2 separate regions of the Homo sapiens genome follow, and region 1 is linked to region 2. The links come from fine-mapping of genetic effects on gene expression. Tissue or cell type: subcutaneous fat. Region 2 holds a variant in brackets; the other region holds the start of a gene. All regions are shown on one strand. Distances are between the middles of the regions.

What was found. PIP is the estimated chance that this variant, and not a neighbour inherited with it, causes the effect.
Region 1: TTC21A starts here. The variant in region 2 is fine-mapped to the expression of TTC21A in subcutaneous fat (GTEx, PIP 0.97).

Annotation. Positions count from the first base shown.
Region 1 is chr3:39,102,764-39,110,850 of GRCh38, reverse strand. It overlaps TTC21A (tetratricopeptide repeat domain 21A), which reads right to left and starts at 3,171. Exons shown (of 29, transcript NM_001366900.1): 1 at 2,987-3,171; 2 at 1,637-1,766; 3 at 712-822. The coding sequence starts at 3,013. It overlaps GORASP1 (golgi reassembly stacking protein 1), which reads left to right and starts at 3,224. Exons shown (of 9, transcript NM_031899.4): 1 at 3,224-3,372; 2 at 7,298-7,378; 3 at 7,970-8,087. The coding sequence starts at 3,310. RefSeq lists a silencer at 3,275-3,594 and enhancers at 7,642-7,691, 7,370-7,869.
Region 2 is chr3:39,214,374-39,222,477 of GRCh38, reverse strand. It overlaps DSTNP4 (DSTN pseudogene 4), which reads right to left. Exons shown (of 2, transcript XM_047449432.1): 2 at 7,806-8,104. The coding sequence ends at 7,806. Among named protein-coding and RNA genes, the nearest start is that of DSTNP4, 5.6 kb to the right of the region's middle. RefSeq lists a silencer at 1,404-1,503. The variant G/A (reference allele first, on the strand shown) is at 3,847.

The sequences.
Region 1 (8,087 bases), 110 kb after region 2:
CTGTAAATCCAAGAGCGAAGGAAGAGGGAGAGTTAGGATGTGGAAGTCTGCCTGGTTCTGCATGGGCCACCGAGGGCCCAGGGAACTACCTCGGGGTCTCCCCCAGACACTGTGGATCTCCTTCAACATATGCAGCACACCGCATGCAGCCCAAGGCCTGGAAACCAGCAGTACCTGCCCTTGAGATGCTGCAGGGGCTGCCCTGGTGTGGACTCACGTGTGCTGTCTGAGATTACCTTCTCTTCTCTGTGCCCAGCAGTGTGCTGAGCAGGCAGGCCAAACCAAAATCCTTAGCCTCAGGCCCACAACTTATTGTGAGTAGGGAAATAGTAGTCTGTAGTCTCTCTTGGACCCTCTCCCTGACTCTAGAAATGTGGAGATTAGGGGTAGAATTATATATATTGGCTTGGTTTTTCTGACAAGATCTTGGCAAAGAAGAAGGGTGTTTCCCCAACTCTTGGGATCTGGAGCATGGGCCCCTCCCACTGTCATGGGCTCTGCCTGCTTCCACTCAGTTGGGCCCAGGCATGGAGTCTTCTCCCAGGCCTCCAGGGGGAGAGGAGCAGCAGCCACTTCTCACTGGTTAACAGCATCTGCACAGCCACCAGGGCACATACCTCCTTTGGCAGCCCTTGAGGGGCTGTGTTATCTCTGGGGCAGGGCTTTCCTTCCCCTGGTGGGTCAGGCCTGGTTGAGCATGGTGGCACTCACCAATGATTTCACATCTTTTGTGAGCATAAATGAGGGCCATGGTGGAGCACAGGGACACGTCTGGGTGATGCCTGATGCTTTCCAGGTCACTGATGGCATCCTGGATGTGCTCTGCAAAGACAGTCCACATAGTTATACTCTCAAGCTCCAGGACTAGAGGACATGAGACTCTGTAGCTGACCCAACAGCTCAGCACTACTACCTGCTGGACTAACTGGTCTGAAAGGTCCCCAGTGACCCAAGTTCCCTGAAGATTGGGGCTCTTTGAAAGAGTTGCTGGTAACATGGTCCAGGCTGTTAGGGGCTGGAAATCTTGGACTTGAAAGGTTCACCCTGTGAGTACTTGTGGGGATATGTGTGAGGCTGCAATTATTAGCTGCGTCAGTTCTGAAGAAGGACCTCAGGCAGGGCATTCTCAGCTACTGCTCAAGAGCCACTGATTACATTTATCCCTCCATGTCCTCAGACATTTGGCCATGGGCTATTCTGCCAGTCCTCAGCCTAGGACCACCTTCTGAATGTCAGCCCATCTGCACCTGCATGGGTCTCACTCCTCTCCCTGTACCTGTACCATACCCACCTGTCCTCACACCTACCTCTTCCCCCTCCTTTGCCTGCATTACCAGTTCTCAGCTTCCAGGCCTGGAATTACTTCAAGAATCATGCAGCTATCTCTCCAACCACTCATTTTACAGAGAGGGAACCCGAGGTGCAGAGCAGGGATAGTCAGCGCTCTGAGGTCTCAAAAGTCAACTAGATATGGATTACGTAGGCCTCTGTGGATTCCCGTGGGAATCCAGCCGCTGAGTGTGAAACTGTTTTTATGGGACCATAACTAGGATACAAGAAGGCATCCAGGTGGAGCCAGAGTGTTAGGGCCCAGCTAGTGCCTGGGGTCACAAGACCAACACTGCCAAGTCCTTACCTTCTTTGAGGACTCCATAGGCTTTAAAGAACTTCAACACAGGGTCATTGCTGAATTTTTCCAGGCCCACAGCTGCAGCCTGCTGCACATGGTGGAAGTACTTTTCCTGGCTATAGTAAATGATCCCAGCCTGTATGAAGGAAGACATAACTGCAATAGCCCAGTCCCTTCTCTGTCTCTGTTCTGTCCCAGATGGGATGAGACCTGCTCCCTTCCCTATCCCCTGCTCCTCCTCAGTTCTGCAAAGGGAAGAGAAAGAGGAAACATTCAGGCCTCATCCTGTCCTCTAACAGCCCTGGGAGCAGCTCCATGCAGTTTTCCCAGGAAAGAGTTTGGAGGTGTTTGTTTGGGGGATTACCAACAGATTCTGGTTCAACTATGATGGGGAATTCAACCAAGGCTTTGTCTTAGGAAGGGAATAAGGGGGGAAAAATGAGGACAAATAATAAGAAAAATTATACGAATTGTAGTTACAAGTTATTGTGGGCTTCATATCCACTATCCTGTGCATGGTCCTCTCAGTATCTTTCACAGCTAAGGAAGCTTAAGCCCATGGAAACTACAGCTTGACAAAGGGGCTGAGATTTTAAAGTTAAGTTTCACTTCCTCTAAGGTTTGTGGGTGCTAGGTTGGGAGCAGATGTGGTTGGACTGTAAACATCCTCATGGGCCATATGAAAGAGCCCAGACACCATCCTAAGGGTAACAGAAAGCAGAATGGTTTTAAGGCGAGGGATGTTTTCAGATGTACATTTTTGCAACAACCACTCTGGCTGCTTTTGCATGTGGGGGGTGTGTGCCGTGGTGGCAGCAGGGACTACTGATGCTGAAAAGAGCCACAGCAGAGAAACCAGATGGGAGGGAGGCTGTTGCAGGCTCTCAGGGGGGAGAGATGGTGCTGGTTCTGGGCTAGAAGATAAAAAGATAAAAAGAAAACCCAGGAGACATCAAGGAGCTGGCATTTCTTGTAGACAGGATTAGAAGATGAGTATAGGGAAGAGGTATGAGTTAAGGCTAGGAGATTAAATGGTGAAGCCATCAACTGGGGTGGGAGGCGCAGGCGAGAGTGAGCTGGGTGGAAGAAGGGATGATGACAAGAAGGGATAATGATAGTGATTGGATGAGCTGGTTTGGGGTAGCTCAAGAAACGGGGATGCTAATTTGGGGCTCAGGGTGCGCAGAAGCCACCGGAGAAGACGCCCTTGCCAGGGGGAGTGGGGCAAGAAAAGGCAGGACCGCCTGATATAACTGAGGACAGCGAAGGGTGGCAGGAGAGTAGCAGGGCAGACGGTCTCTGGGTCAGGGGCGGGGAGTCACGAGGGAGCCCTCGGACAGCGCCCGGGCCACGCACCATAAGGGAGGAGTCATTGCTGCTCATCTCGGGCCGCTCGCGGCTCCGAGTCCGGGTCTGGTGGGGCGGTGCAGAGCGGGATTCCCGAGGCAGGGTCGTGGGCACTCTATCGCGGCGGGCGGTTGAAGGCGTTACAGTCCTTGGAAACCGAGCTGCTAGCCGGTTGCTAGGAGCGTCCAGTGTCTGGAGTGGGAGGAACAAAACGCCTCACGTCACAAGGCGCAGGAATCGAGCGCCGAGAGAGCGAGTCGGTGCTACTGGCGTCGGGTCGGTCCGGGTAGGCGCAGCGGGACTGGACCTGGGTGCCGAGCGGAGCCGCTGCCATGGGCCTGGGCGTCAGCGCTGAGCAGCCCGCAGGCGGCGCCGAGGGCTTCCACCTCCACGGGGTGAGTTGCCGCCGCGGCGCCGGTGACCTTGGCGAGGCGCCCGCAACCCCGCGCCCGGGCGTCCGGTCGCCGGCTGGCTGGCGACTGCGGCGGGGTCCCGGCCCGAGTGTTTCCGCCTGGGTGGCGGGAGGTGCCCCCTGCCCGGTGGGAGCCTCCTGGGAGAGGCGGCCTCGCGGGACTCCCGGACCCTGGCTAGTCCGCGGCCGCGGTCGGGCCCAGCGCCCGCCCCAAGTGCCAGCAGTGCCGGAAGCGGAGCGTTTTCCTGGTCCGGCCGCCGGGAATGGCGCTCCTCCCGGGTGAAGAATGCACCACTACCAGTCGGGACGCACTCGTGCACTTAGCACACATTTACGCTCGCCTGCCGCGGGCCGCTCTCCGTGCTGGGCCTGGGAAGAGAGTCAGCCACGCCGAGGACAGTCCCGGGGGCCGGGGTTAACCGAGTGGACGCAGCTGCGGGGGAGCCCGTCGGCGCGCGTCCTGCCAGTCGTAGGGTCGTAAGGGCTTCCGAGGGTAGAGGACCGGTGCAAACCAGCCACGGGATAGTGGGGAGCGGGAGGGCCGGGAGAGTGCTGCAGAATCCTCGAGGAGAGCGTTTGCAGCTGGGGAGGGTCCCAGCCTTTAGATGCCGCTACATGGAGGTCTGGGCGAGCAGGCTTCCGGAGAGTGGAGACGGAGTGGGGTTCCTAGAACGGAGTGTGCTGTGAGGGTGAGGAGAGGGTCCCGCAGCCGGATGGAGATTTGTGCCTGCGGTGAGGGAAGGGCTATAATGTAGGTGAGAGGGGCTGGGGGTCTCTGACCCCGGAGCGCTGCGGGGAAGAGGCGTCCCTGCACCCCCCCTTTCCCTAGTGAAAGGCAGCTGGATGCAGAGATGAGTGGAGACAGGCAAGCTTGTCGGTTTGTGTGTTTTGAAGGTAGGGTCTGTTGCCAGCTAACCACATGAGAGGGCTAAAAGTTTCTTAACGTGAAAACCAGGCTGGCTTGGAGAACCCAGAGTTGACAGGATTTGTGCTTGGGAATGGGCTTTCTTATGGTGAGACACCAAACAGCAAGCGTGGACAGTGGAATGCATCCAGCCAGGAGCGTCTTCCAACAGGTTTGATTAAAGGCAAAGGAACTCAGGATATTGGCAAGAGGAGGGGTGGGGCGATGATGGGAGCTTCGAAGACGGGAGGGGCCTGCCTGATGGAGAGGGACAAATTGGAGAGGGACCAGGGATCAGAGGTTGTCAGTCACAAAAACAAAGTTTTGAGCTCCTACTCTGGCAGGCAGAATTCTAAGGCTCTAGAGATAAAGCAGTGAACAGAACAAACATGGTCCCTGTTCTGGAGCTGACATTTGGATGATGGTAGGGAAAGAAGGGAAATGAAAAAATACATGGTAGGTGGTAATTACCAGTGATAAAAATAAAGCAGGTTAAGGGGATACAGAATGGTGAGTGGGTGCTATTTTTGATAGAGTGGTCAGGAAGGGCCTCTTCTCAAGTCACATTCGAACAGATGCTTCTGAAGGAAGTAAAGAGTGGACAATACAGATATTTAGGGGAATAGTAGTATTCCAGGCAGAAGGACCAGCTTGTGCAGAGGCCCCGAGGTAGGTTGTGCTTGTGTGTTTGAGGAAATGCCAGGTGAGGCTGGTGTGCTTGGATGGTGTGGCCAGTGTGAGGAGGAGACCAGAGCAGACCGTGTAGGACCTTGCCTGTTGTCCTGAAGATTTAAGATTTTATTCTGAGATGTAAAACCATCAGGAGGTTTTAAATGGAGGAGTGACATGACCTACTTACCTTTAACAACACTGAAGAACAGCTGTGCTGCATTCTAGAAATATTGGCACCTCGCTGCGTGCCCAATACTTTGGAGAAGTCGCTGCCCTCAGCGAGCTTAGAGTAGTGGCAGATTCACCAGGAAACAGCTGTTAGGAGAGGGCAGTGGTTAGGGGGAGGGCTCTGGGTTGGATTTCCTGGGGTCAAATTACTGAATTATTGAGTACTTGGTCTCATTTGTCATTTGAGGTTATTAAAAAGGTTAAATGACACATAAAGCAGGTGAGGTGGTGCCATGCCCTGGCACTCAGCCAACCAGCCCTTAGTAAGTGTAAGTTGTGATCACTGTGAGTTCCATTAGGTTCCCTGATTGGGAAAAATAGGGTGGGAGCATGAGGAAAAGCAGCACTATAGGGCCTTGGGGCAGGCTGTGATGGGAGCCCCTGAGGGAGCTGGATGGCAGGCAGTGGTTTCTGCAGGGGGAGCCGTACAGTGGGCAGCAGCATAGATTATTTCAGCTGCGGAGCCATAGTGAGTAGTGATGAGGCCCCAGGTGAGAGAAGTGGAGTGTAGCCAAGCAGAGGACAAAGCCACAGGAGAGGGTGGTGGAGGTATTGGGTGGGTCAAGGAGGCCAGGCCTGGGGCCTGACCCTCTGGACCTCATTCATGATGGAGAGCAGCTGACATGCAATACTGGGGAGTGGGGAGGGAAGTAGGCAGGCACCTGACGTGGAGTGATTTGGAGGTGGCCCTGATTAGGGAGGGGCATTGTCCCCAAGCTATTCCTGAATAACTGTCCTGTCCTGTGGTTTTCGAAAGATCCCCTCACCTGAAGGGTTAGAGGGCAGGGCCCAGAGCTCCCCTGCAGCGGGGCCTGGGAGCAGCTTGCCTACTGGGCCAGGCCAACTAGGCCCAGATCTGATTTCTGGGCCGCACTCACTCCCTTTGGAAGCCATGGCAGCTTCTGGAGGTGATAAGGAGGGGCTCAGTTGGTGATGCTGCCAGAAGGGAATCCTAATTCCAGGGGCAAACTGGCCTTGATCTCAGCGGTTTGTTCTCAGCCTAGTCTTCATGAGCTCTCCTTCAGGTTGGGGAATCCAAACCTGGAGGGGCTGGTATGTAGCAGGAGCCACAGGGCCTTTCCCATGAGGAGGCAGCAAGAGCCTAGGTCCTGTGCCCTCTGGGCTGGGTCTGGCTGGTGTCTACGCCAACAGGTTATCAAATGCCCGCAGCCAAAGACCTGAGGGTGTGGGCCCATCTTCGGGTCTAGGGCCTTGGGACAAAGCCTGCATTGTTTAAGCCAGGCTCTGTATATGGGGCTTTTGGGATGGATTTCTGCCACAGCCTGCAAAGCCTGGTTGTTGTGCTTTTGGAGACAGCAGTGAGGTGGGGAGTTCAGGGAGGGGCAGGGAGCACCCTGGAAATGGGAATGCTTCCTGGAGGAGGTGTCCTGCACAGGCATGGAGGCTACACTATGAGGCTGGTAGGGCAGCTGAGCCACTGGGGGGCTCCTCAGTCCAGAGCCAGGCTGTGGGGATTGGCACTGCCCACTCACTGGGCTCCCTGGCTCAGGCCTAGTTCTACCCCTGGGGTCTGCTTCTCTGCCAGTGGCTTTCATTACCTGCTGGACTGAGCCTGGGTCTCCCACCCCAGAGGCTGGGGTGCAAGCTGGGACCTGGCTGCAAGCTGCTTTTCCCACTCCCTCTTTCTGGGTACAGCCCTGGGTGTATCCCTCCCGAGGCCTGCCCACTTCCACTGCACGTCAGGGCCCTCCCTTCTGGTCCAGTCTAAACCTTTCTGGTAAACCCTTTTGGCTTTCCGGCCAACCCTAGCCTAGCCCTCTAGAGCAGCATTCCCACAGGCCTGGGCCAGCCTGTCTCCATATTGCCTCCTGGGAGCCCCTAAGGATGTCCTGGGCTGTGAGCCATTTCTGAAAGCATCTGTGGATCATAATCAGGAAGGAGCCATTTTCCTAAGAGGAAAATTTGTGCCCAGGAAGGTAGCAAGAGGCCATGGAGTGAACCCTGAGAATGTCCGGAACAGTTCATGCCAGACATGTGTTCTGGCTGGCACACTGGGAGTGCTGATGGTTCCTGAAATGGGGGAGAGGGCTACTTGGAGAGTCCCAGGGTTGGCGCAGTGACTGTGGTCTTTGCTGTGGGATAGGTGCAGGAGAACTCCCCAGCCCAGCAGGCGGGCCTGGAGCCCTACTTTGACTTCATCATCACCATTGGGCACTCGAGGCTGGTGAGTTCCCCAACCTGCCTCTGCTTTGCTTGCTTATGTGTGTTTGTGTGTCTTCATCTGTCCCACAGGGGGCCCCAGTCTACCCTTCCCTCCCTTTTTTTCTAAAGGGAGTCCCAGCCCTGTCTCCCCTTCTTCCAGGGCTGTACTCAGAGCCTGACTGGGGCCCTGCCCAGTGCTCAGCTTCTGAGCTCTGTGGGGTGGACAGAGGACATATGGCCTCTTGGAGGTGGCAACAAGGCCCAAGGGGCCTGCCTCCTGGGGCATGAGGGATATGAGGGCCCTGGCCAAGGGGCAGCTCAGAGTGGGGCAGCACTGGAATGCTGTGGATCTGGGAGGCTTTTTGCTTGCTTTGTTTTTTCTGGCAGGCTGAGGAAGGTTTGGCAGTGCTTGGGGAAGGTGGGGGTCCCAGTGGCTGCAGGCTCAACCCTGGTCTGTGAACCTGGCCCATCCACTACCTTGGCCCATCCCCACAGTGACCCTGCTGAGGGCTGCTGCCCACTAAGGCCCTTGCCCCATCTCAGGCCCAGACTTGTCTGAGGGTCCTAGCCTGGGCATGAGGTGGCCTTGGAGTCAGCCCCATTGCCCCCACAGAACAAGGAGAATGACACCCTGAAGGCACTACTGAAAGCCAATGTGGAGAAGCCCGTGAAGCTGGAGGTGTTCAATATGAAGACCATGAGGGTGCGCGAGGTGGAGGTGGTGCCCAGCA
Region 2 (8,104 bases):
TTGTACATGGTCTTTATATCTTCTAGATTTACAAATATTTTCTCCCATTCTATCAGTTGTCTTTTTGCTTTCTTGGTAGTGTCCTTTGAAAGACAAAAGTTTTTAATTTTTATGAACTCCAATTTTTTTTCTTTTGTTGTTTGTGCTTTTGGTGTCATATCTAAGAATCCATTGCCAAATTCAAGGTCATGAGAACTTATACCAATATTTTAAGAGTTTATAATTCTGGCTCTTACATTTTGGTTTTTGATGCACTTTGGTTTAATCTTTATACACAATGTAAGGGTCCAATTTCATCCTTTTGTATGGGGCTGTACAGTTATCCCAACACCATTTGTTGAAAAGACTCATTTTTCCCCATTGAATAGTCTTGACATCCTTGTCAAAGTTCACCTAACCATAGATAAATGGGGTTATTTCTGAACTCTGAATTCTGTTTTATTAATCTATGTGTCTATCCTTAAGTAAGTACTATGTTGTCTTGATTATTGTTTTGCAATTAGGAAGAATTAGTCCTAATTTTTTCTTCTTTTTTATGATTGTTTTTGGCTCTTCTGGGTTCCTTGAGTTTCCATATAATTTTCAGGATCAGCTTGTCAATTTCTATTAAAAAGTCATCTGGGATACTGATAGGAACTGTATTGAATCTATAGATCAGTTTGGGGAATATTGCTGTTTTAATGCTTAATATTTATTAAGTATTTGAGACAATATTTATTTTCTTCTGATTATGAACATGGGATGTCTTCCCATTTATTTAGTTTTCTTTAATTTCTTTCAATACTGTTTTGTAGTTTTTAGAGTATAAGTTTTGCACTTCTTTTGTTAACCTTATTCCTAAGTGTTTTATTCTAGTTGATGCTACTATAAATATTGTTTCCTTAATTTCATTTCTGGATTGTTCATTGCAAAGTTATAGAAATTGATTGTTACATACTGTCTGCATATCCTATAACCTTGCTAAACTCATTAATTAATTCTGACAGTTTCTCAGTGGATTTAGTGGATACACATCATCATATAATCTGTGAATAGAGGTAGTTTTACTTCTTCCTTTCCAATCTGAATGCCTTTTATTTCATTTTCATTTTCTTGCCTAATCTGTATGTTAGCTAACAGCTGCCTTGTTGAGCACACACCAAATCAGGGTGAGATGCAGCAGGAATCCAGGTGAGAACAAATTGTGCCTTTGACCAGGGCAGTAGCAGAAAAAGGGTCACAAAATGGTTCAGCTGTTTCTCTTTTGTTCTTCTCTCCTTTATTTCTTTTGACTATCTTGATGGTTTTGTTGTTGTTGTTGTTGTTTTTGTTTTGTTTTGTTTTGTTTTTAACCTCAACCAACAACAAAGCCAACATTTACTTTCTTAAAATCCTCCTGTGGTAAAATTCTTAGTAAGCAGTTCCACATGAAGGAAGCAGACACCAGACTGGAGGCTAAAAAAGCACAAACCCCACACGTCCTGTCTATGTAAGAACAGATCTAACAAGGCAGGTCTGGTTGGAGGGAAGGTCTATTTTTATGAGACGGGGGAAAACAGAAGTGTCCATCACCAGGGCTGAGAAATGCTGCAACTCTCAGCAACCAGCTAAAGATAACCCAGGCCAGGAACTCTCCACCCAGACTGAAGGGGCCTCAGTGCTCTGTGCATGCAGGATAATTCAAGCTTCTCCAGTGAGCAGCCATCCCAAGCTACTGGATCCTTCAGTTTGGGAACACTAGCTTAACCAGCCTTCCTCAGGAACTTCCTTCTCCCTGAAGGTGGCAACACAGGAAAACTCCCCATCAGTCCCTCTTACCCATACACCGCAAGCCAGTTGTGATCTCTCCCTCCTGGCAAGCAGGATCCTGGAGTTCTAATCTGGGCTGGGCCTAGGGTGAGTCAAGGGAAGCCCCTAGGGCACTTGCATGATCCTGACGGTGAGGGCTTCCTTACATTTTGCTTCTTAGATGTTTCTCTCGCCTCACTGGATGGCCAGCCCTGGTTCTAATCCCAGATCTGCTGTTGACAGGCCATGTACATGAGGACAAGTCTCTTGTTCTCTCTGGCCTTCAGTTTACTCATCCGAGAAACTGAAGTGCTGGAGTTAGATCAGTGTTTCCCAATAACTGATCCATGAACCCAAAATGATCCTTAATATTCAGATACACAGAACCTTTACCAAATGTCCTCACTTCTGAAAATCTAAAAACTTTTCTATAAGAACCTAATGTATGACTATAGAATGTGGCAGATGTAGTCAGGGTCCTCCACAGGACTCATTCCTCCCTAGAGAAACTGCACCATCTTCTCTACAGCTCTGTCAGGGCTGTCCCAGCCACTATTGTAACATTGCTAACTGCCCTGACAAAAAGTGATTAGACTAGAGGTAGAACCCAAGCCCAAGATGAACCAATCTATAGACTGGACAGAGACATGCAGATTATTGCTCTCACAGTTTGGGCACTGCAGACTCCGTAGCCAATAATGGTGGGCAGGTCAGCAGTCAGGTCAGACTCAAGGCTGATGGGCACAGAGACCCACGTGCAGGCAAAGAAGCTGATTAAAAGAAGGAGGATGCAGAGAGATGCAGTGATGAGTAAGTCTTATGGTCTATGAAAGTTGAGAAATTACTTTGCTCTTGAGAGAGGGAGGGTGTCCCCAGCTCCTGACTTTCCCATCCTACGCCAATATGAGGCAGGAAGGCCCAGAAGCAATAAGCAACCAAGTACCTAGATTATAGTCTCCAAATATCATTCTCAACTCTAGCACTTCTTGTAGAAATAAGTAATTCTGAGGCCAAGGCAGGGAAATTACAAGATGAACCTGAAACATTTTCTTGTGCCAGAAAGTAAAGAATTACTCAAAGAATGATGGGGGCATGTCTATAGCTCATAGGTACAAATTTCAATGGTTATCCTCTAGCCAAATCTGGAATAATTTGATATTAAAATAAATACTGATGGTAATGGATTAAATCTGCTGAATAAAATAGGAATCCATGAGTCTATGTCAATAAAAATAAGTAGAGGATTGAGTATGAGTAATTTTTTTAAAAAGTAAAAAAGTAAGTGGAGGAAAAGGGAAATGTCTTCCTTATAGTAGCATAGCAGCTAATATATATCGTAGGAATGATGATAATGGATAAACCACCATTTACAACCGCCATAATGGTGGTTAATTCAGGCAAAAGTAATCAATAACTACTAAGTCAAGTTAGTGGAGATTTAATGGGATACAAGATATTGGCATAGTTTGAGAATATCTTCCCACAAAATGTTCATCAATTACAAATAGAAAATTGATGAGTTAATGTGGAGAAACCTGACACAAAATGACCAGGTGCTAAAGATGAACATCACCAGTGTAGGGACAAGCCCACGTTGTATGCCCCCTCGTGTGATGCAGTGAGAAGAGGACAGCCTCCCTTCCGTATAGCACTCCCAGAACACATGTGTGAACCCAGTCCTGAGGAAACACTGCTGGAACCAGGCTGAGCTTTGGCACTCCAAGAACACATGTGTGAACCCAGTCCTGACAAAATATGGGTAGAACCAGGCTGAGCTTCGGCACTCCCAGAACACAAATGTGAATCCAGTCCTGAGGAAACATTGGTGGAACCAGGCTGAGCTTCGTCCTAGAGACTGAAAGGTCTGCACTCTTTCAAACTAATGAGATCATGAAAAACAGGGAGAGACCAAGGAATTATTCCAGATTGAAAGAGACTAAAGAGACTTGTGTATGAAGTACAAAGTGTGATCCTGGCCTAGACAGGAAAGAGACACTGTTAGGACAGCTGGCAAAATATGAATATATTCTTTGGATTAGATGTTAGTGTTAGAGCTGATTTCTTATTTCCTGACTGGAA[G/A]AGTTGTATGCTGGTTATGTAGAAGAGTGTCCTTGGTTTGGAAAGATGCATGCTGAAGATTTTGGGAATTTGGTGCATCATGTTGCAAATGTATTTTTTAATAAATTTATTTATATGTATTTTATATATTTTTATCTTACATAATATATAACTATATCATATGCATATTACTTATGAATATATCATTAGTATCACCAGACAGAGCATCTATAATTTTGTCTTTCAGGTCTACCGTTGATTTTTTTCATTTTAACAAATATTTCTAATTTCCTAGAATTCTTTCTTGCAAGTTTTTCCATAGCAATCTATTTTTGTTTTCCAAACAGAAGATATTCTTGATACTCCATTCAATTTTGGACATTGCCAGTTGAACATTCCACAGTACTGCAATATCAGCCTGCTCAAAGCTGAATTCTCCATCTTTTCCTACAAGCCTGTGGATCCTATAGTCTTGTGGGCCACTGAAAGCAATAGCTTTCTTTCTAAGTTGGGTAGGAAGCCATTGAAGGGTTTTGAACAGAGAAGTGACATAATAAAATTTGCATTTTAAAAGAATCACCCTAGCTGTATTGAAAATAGACTGTAAGGAGGCAACGGAAGAAGAGAAGATTCCAGTTGGAAGTAGGATAATCAATAATCCTGGTTTGCCCAGGGCTGAGGGATTTCCTGAGACTGGACTTTCAGTGCAAAAACTGGGAAAGTACCAGGCAAACTGTGACAAGCTGGCTACTCTGGTTAGGAGACTATTTCAGAAGGTTCTGGTGTGAAACGATGATAGCTTGGACCAGCTAAATGGAGATGATTATGAGATGTCAGATTCTGGATATATAATGGGTAAGTTTTATATAATACATAATGCATGGGATGTGTCAAGTGAGGAAAAGAGAAGATTCCTGTGTTCTCAGATTGAGTACTAGGAGACCTGAATTAGCATTTACTGAGGGATGAGGGGGACTGTGGAAGAAGCTATTTTGGAGGTAAGGGGTAGGTCAAGAGCTCAATTTGGGACTTTCTAAGCATAAGATGCCTATGATCCAAAAGGGGATGTTACAAGGCAGTGAAATACATGAGCCTTGAGATCAGAGGAAAGAAGTTAGGATTATAGATATTATATATACATGGACTTTAAAAAGAAATTCATGAAGTGTAGATAAAGAAGAGAATAGATCAAGAACTGAGTCCTGGAGATCCCAATATTAGGAGGGTGGACAGTGGAGGGAGAACCACCAATAGAGAGTGAGAAGGAGCTGCCAGTGAGATCAGAGGCAAACCAGGAGAGTGCAGGGGTCCTGGAAGCCAAGTAAAGATGGTGCTTCAAGGTAGGTGGCATGATTCCCTGCATCCAGTGGAATCTGGGGCCTGCAAATTGACCTTTGGGTCTAGTTATAAGGAGGTCATTGTTGAACTTGACAAGATTTGTTTGGGTAGAGTGGTGGGGGCAAAATCTTGATTAAAGGAGAATGGGGGTGGGCACTGTGGCTCAAGACTAATCTCAGCACTTTGGGAGGCCAAGGTGGGCAGATCACTTGAGGTCAGGAGTTCAAGACCAGTCTGGCCAACATGGTGAAACTCTGTCTCTACTAAAAATACAAAAATTAACTGAGCATGGTGACGTGTGCCTGTAGTCCCAGCTACTTGGAAGGCTGAGGCAGGAGAATCGCTTGAACCCAGGGGGCAGAGATTGCAGTGAGCCAAGTTTGCGCCACTGCACTGCAGCCTGGGTGACAGAGTGAGACTCCGTCTCAAAAAGAGAGACAGAGAGAGAGACAATGGGAGACGAAAGGCAGTAGCTGGAGGGGAAGGTGGAAATGCTTTTTGTGGTTTTTTAAGATGTGAAAAATAACAGCATGTTTGCAGATGGGAATAATACAGTAGAGAGGGGAGAAATGATGATTCAGGAGAGAAGGCAGAGAATGGTGAAGCCATGTTCTTAAGAAGCGGAGAGAGGTTAGGATCTAGGGCTTCAGGGAAAGAGCCAGCCTGAGCTAAGAGTAGAGACAATTACTGCACACAAATAGGAAGGAAGACAAGGCATGTGGGTACTGGGTCAGGAGACTGAGTGGATCTGGCAATGGGAGCTCATGAAAATTCTCTTCTGGCACTTCTAATTCTCAAGAAAGTAAGGAGCAAGGTAATCAGCTGAGGTGGCATGGGGAGACTGCACTGGAGGTCTGAAAGAGGTAAGCTATAAAGGCATCGCCTAGGGGAGCAGATGGAATGGGGAAAGAAGGACAGCTGCTGAGCAGCACTCTGAGCTACTTGAGGTTTCAGTGGTCATGGATTTAGAGAGAGAGACCAGTCAGCACTTTACAACTTTCAGTTCCCTTAATGCTATCTGTTTTTTTTTTTTTTCCTGTTTGTTCATCTTAGTCCTTCTCAATTTTACTGTTGGTTTTGCAGAAATGTCTGGTGGTCCATGGTGGCCCATTTATATTTGAAGAAAAAGGGCTGGGTTAATTCACATAGGTGACTGAAGACACTCAAAGCTCCCCTCCCCAATTACTAAATAGGCTGAATGGAAAAAAGACCTACAACCAGACACGTCATGGTCAAGTTTCAGAACACCAAAAATGAAGAGGCAATCTTAAAGTCTTCAGGCACACACACAAAAATGATAACAGCAGTAAAAGCTGTCACACACACACACAAAAAGGTGTCAGAATGCCATCAGCAATCCTGGGGGCTGGAAAATAAAAAGCAAGCCTTTAAAGTTCTAGAATTCTAGACCTAGCTCAATCACCAATACAGCAAAATGGTAGAATAAACATACCTTTCATCGTATTTAGGATGTGTTCCAACAAAATAAGGAAATCAAAGAAAGACAAGGGCAGGAAAGAGTGAATCCATCTCAGAAGAGCAATGAAGGGAAAGCCCAGGATGAAGGTTTACCTTTCATTACTCTTAATTGCACGCCTTTTCTCAGGTTCAAATGTCTTTACCTTGTGCATTTATCACTTCCACAACTGTTTCTTTTGAAACAGAGTCTTGCTCTGTCACCCAGTCTGGATTGCAGTGGCGCAATCTCTGCTCACGCAACCTCCCTCCCGCATTCAAGTGATTCTCATCCCTCAGCCACCTGAGTAGCTGGGATTACAGGCACGCACCACCATGCCCAACCAATTTTTGTATTTTTAGTAGAGGCGGGGTTTCACCATGTTGGCCAGGCTGGTCTCGAACTCCTGACCTCAAGTGATCCACCCACCTCAGCCTCCCAAAGTGTTGGGATTACAGGCGTGAGCCACTGTGCCCAGCCTAACAACTATTTTTGTTTAAATAACTCTTTACCTCTCAGATCATCAAAATTCTGGACACTGTAACTTCTCCCCCCATATGACTCGAAGTGTTGGAAAAATATGTATGTTTAATTCCTTACTAATTTTTCACATCAAACCTCTTTCTTTTTCATATTATCAGAAATATTTAGATTTAACTATTTATAACTGGGTTTCATTGTTATCAATAGTTACATAAATGCCTCTTCACAGAAAATGCTTCTTTATTATAGAAGCTCTCTTCGTTTTATTTTTAATTTATTTTACTTGAATTTAGTTTTCTTTTGGCTGAATCCTTTCAGCCATATCACCCTTTTCAGAAAAAGTTCCTGGGCAATATACTTTCCAAAATGTCTTTCTGTGACTTGTACACATTGATAATACACGAATGGGCATAATTTCTAGGGTTACACATTTTCTCCCCAAACTCTAAGACAATGCTCATGTGGCTTCTATTATTTAATTAAAAGAGGGTATGTATCCTTGGCTGTTTAGTGGAATCCTGTTTAGCAAATGCACACACCAGGAACTAAACATGACTCCCAGTACTGAATTCCATGAGCTACACATTCTATCTGAGCACTACTCTTGTTTTCTCTTTTTTAAAAACATATGTTTGCTTTATTTATATAGCAAGCGGATAACATTAAACATGGAAGCTTTCCATTTGTGGCACTGAATGATGGCCTACACAGAGCATCCTTCAAAAGCTGCAATTAAGTACCCATCTAACTTTTCAGCAATACAAGCCCAGTTGAGATCTTCTGGTCCATTTGCTTGAAATTTCTTTTTGATTGCATCCTTACAGCTTGTGAAGATCATTTTACTTTTCAGAGGTGGTAGTTCTGGTGCCCACAAAAACAAACAAACAAACAATACTCTTCCGGATTTCTTCGTTTCAAAGCTTGCATCATATAAAGCATAGCAGCAATCTTTTTCAGGAAGCATTCCCACAAAGTGCTTGAAAGGACCAGTTATGGTTACAC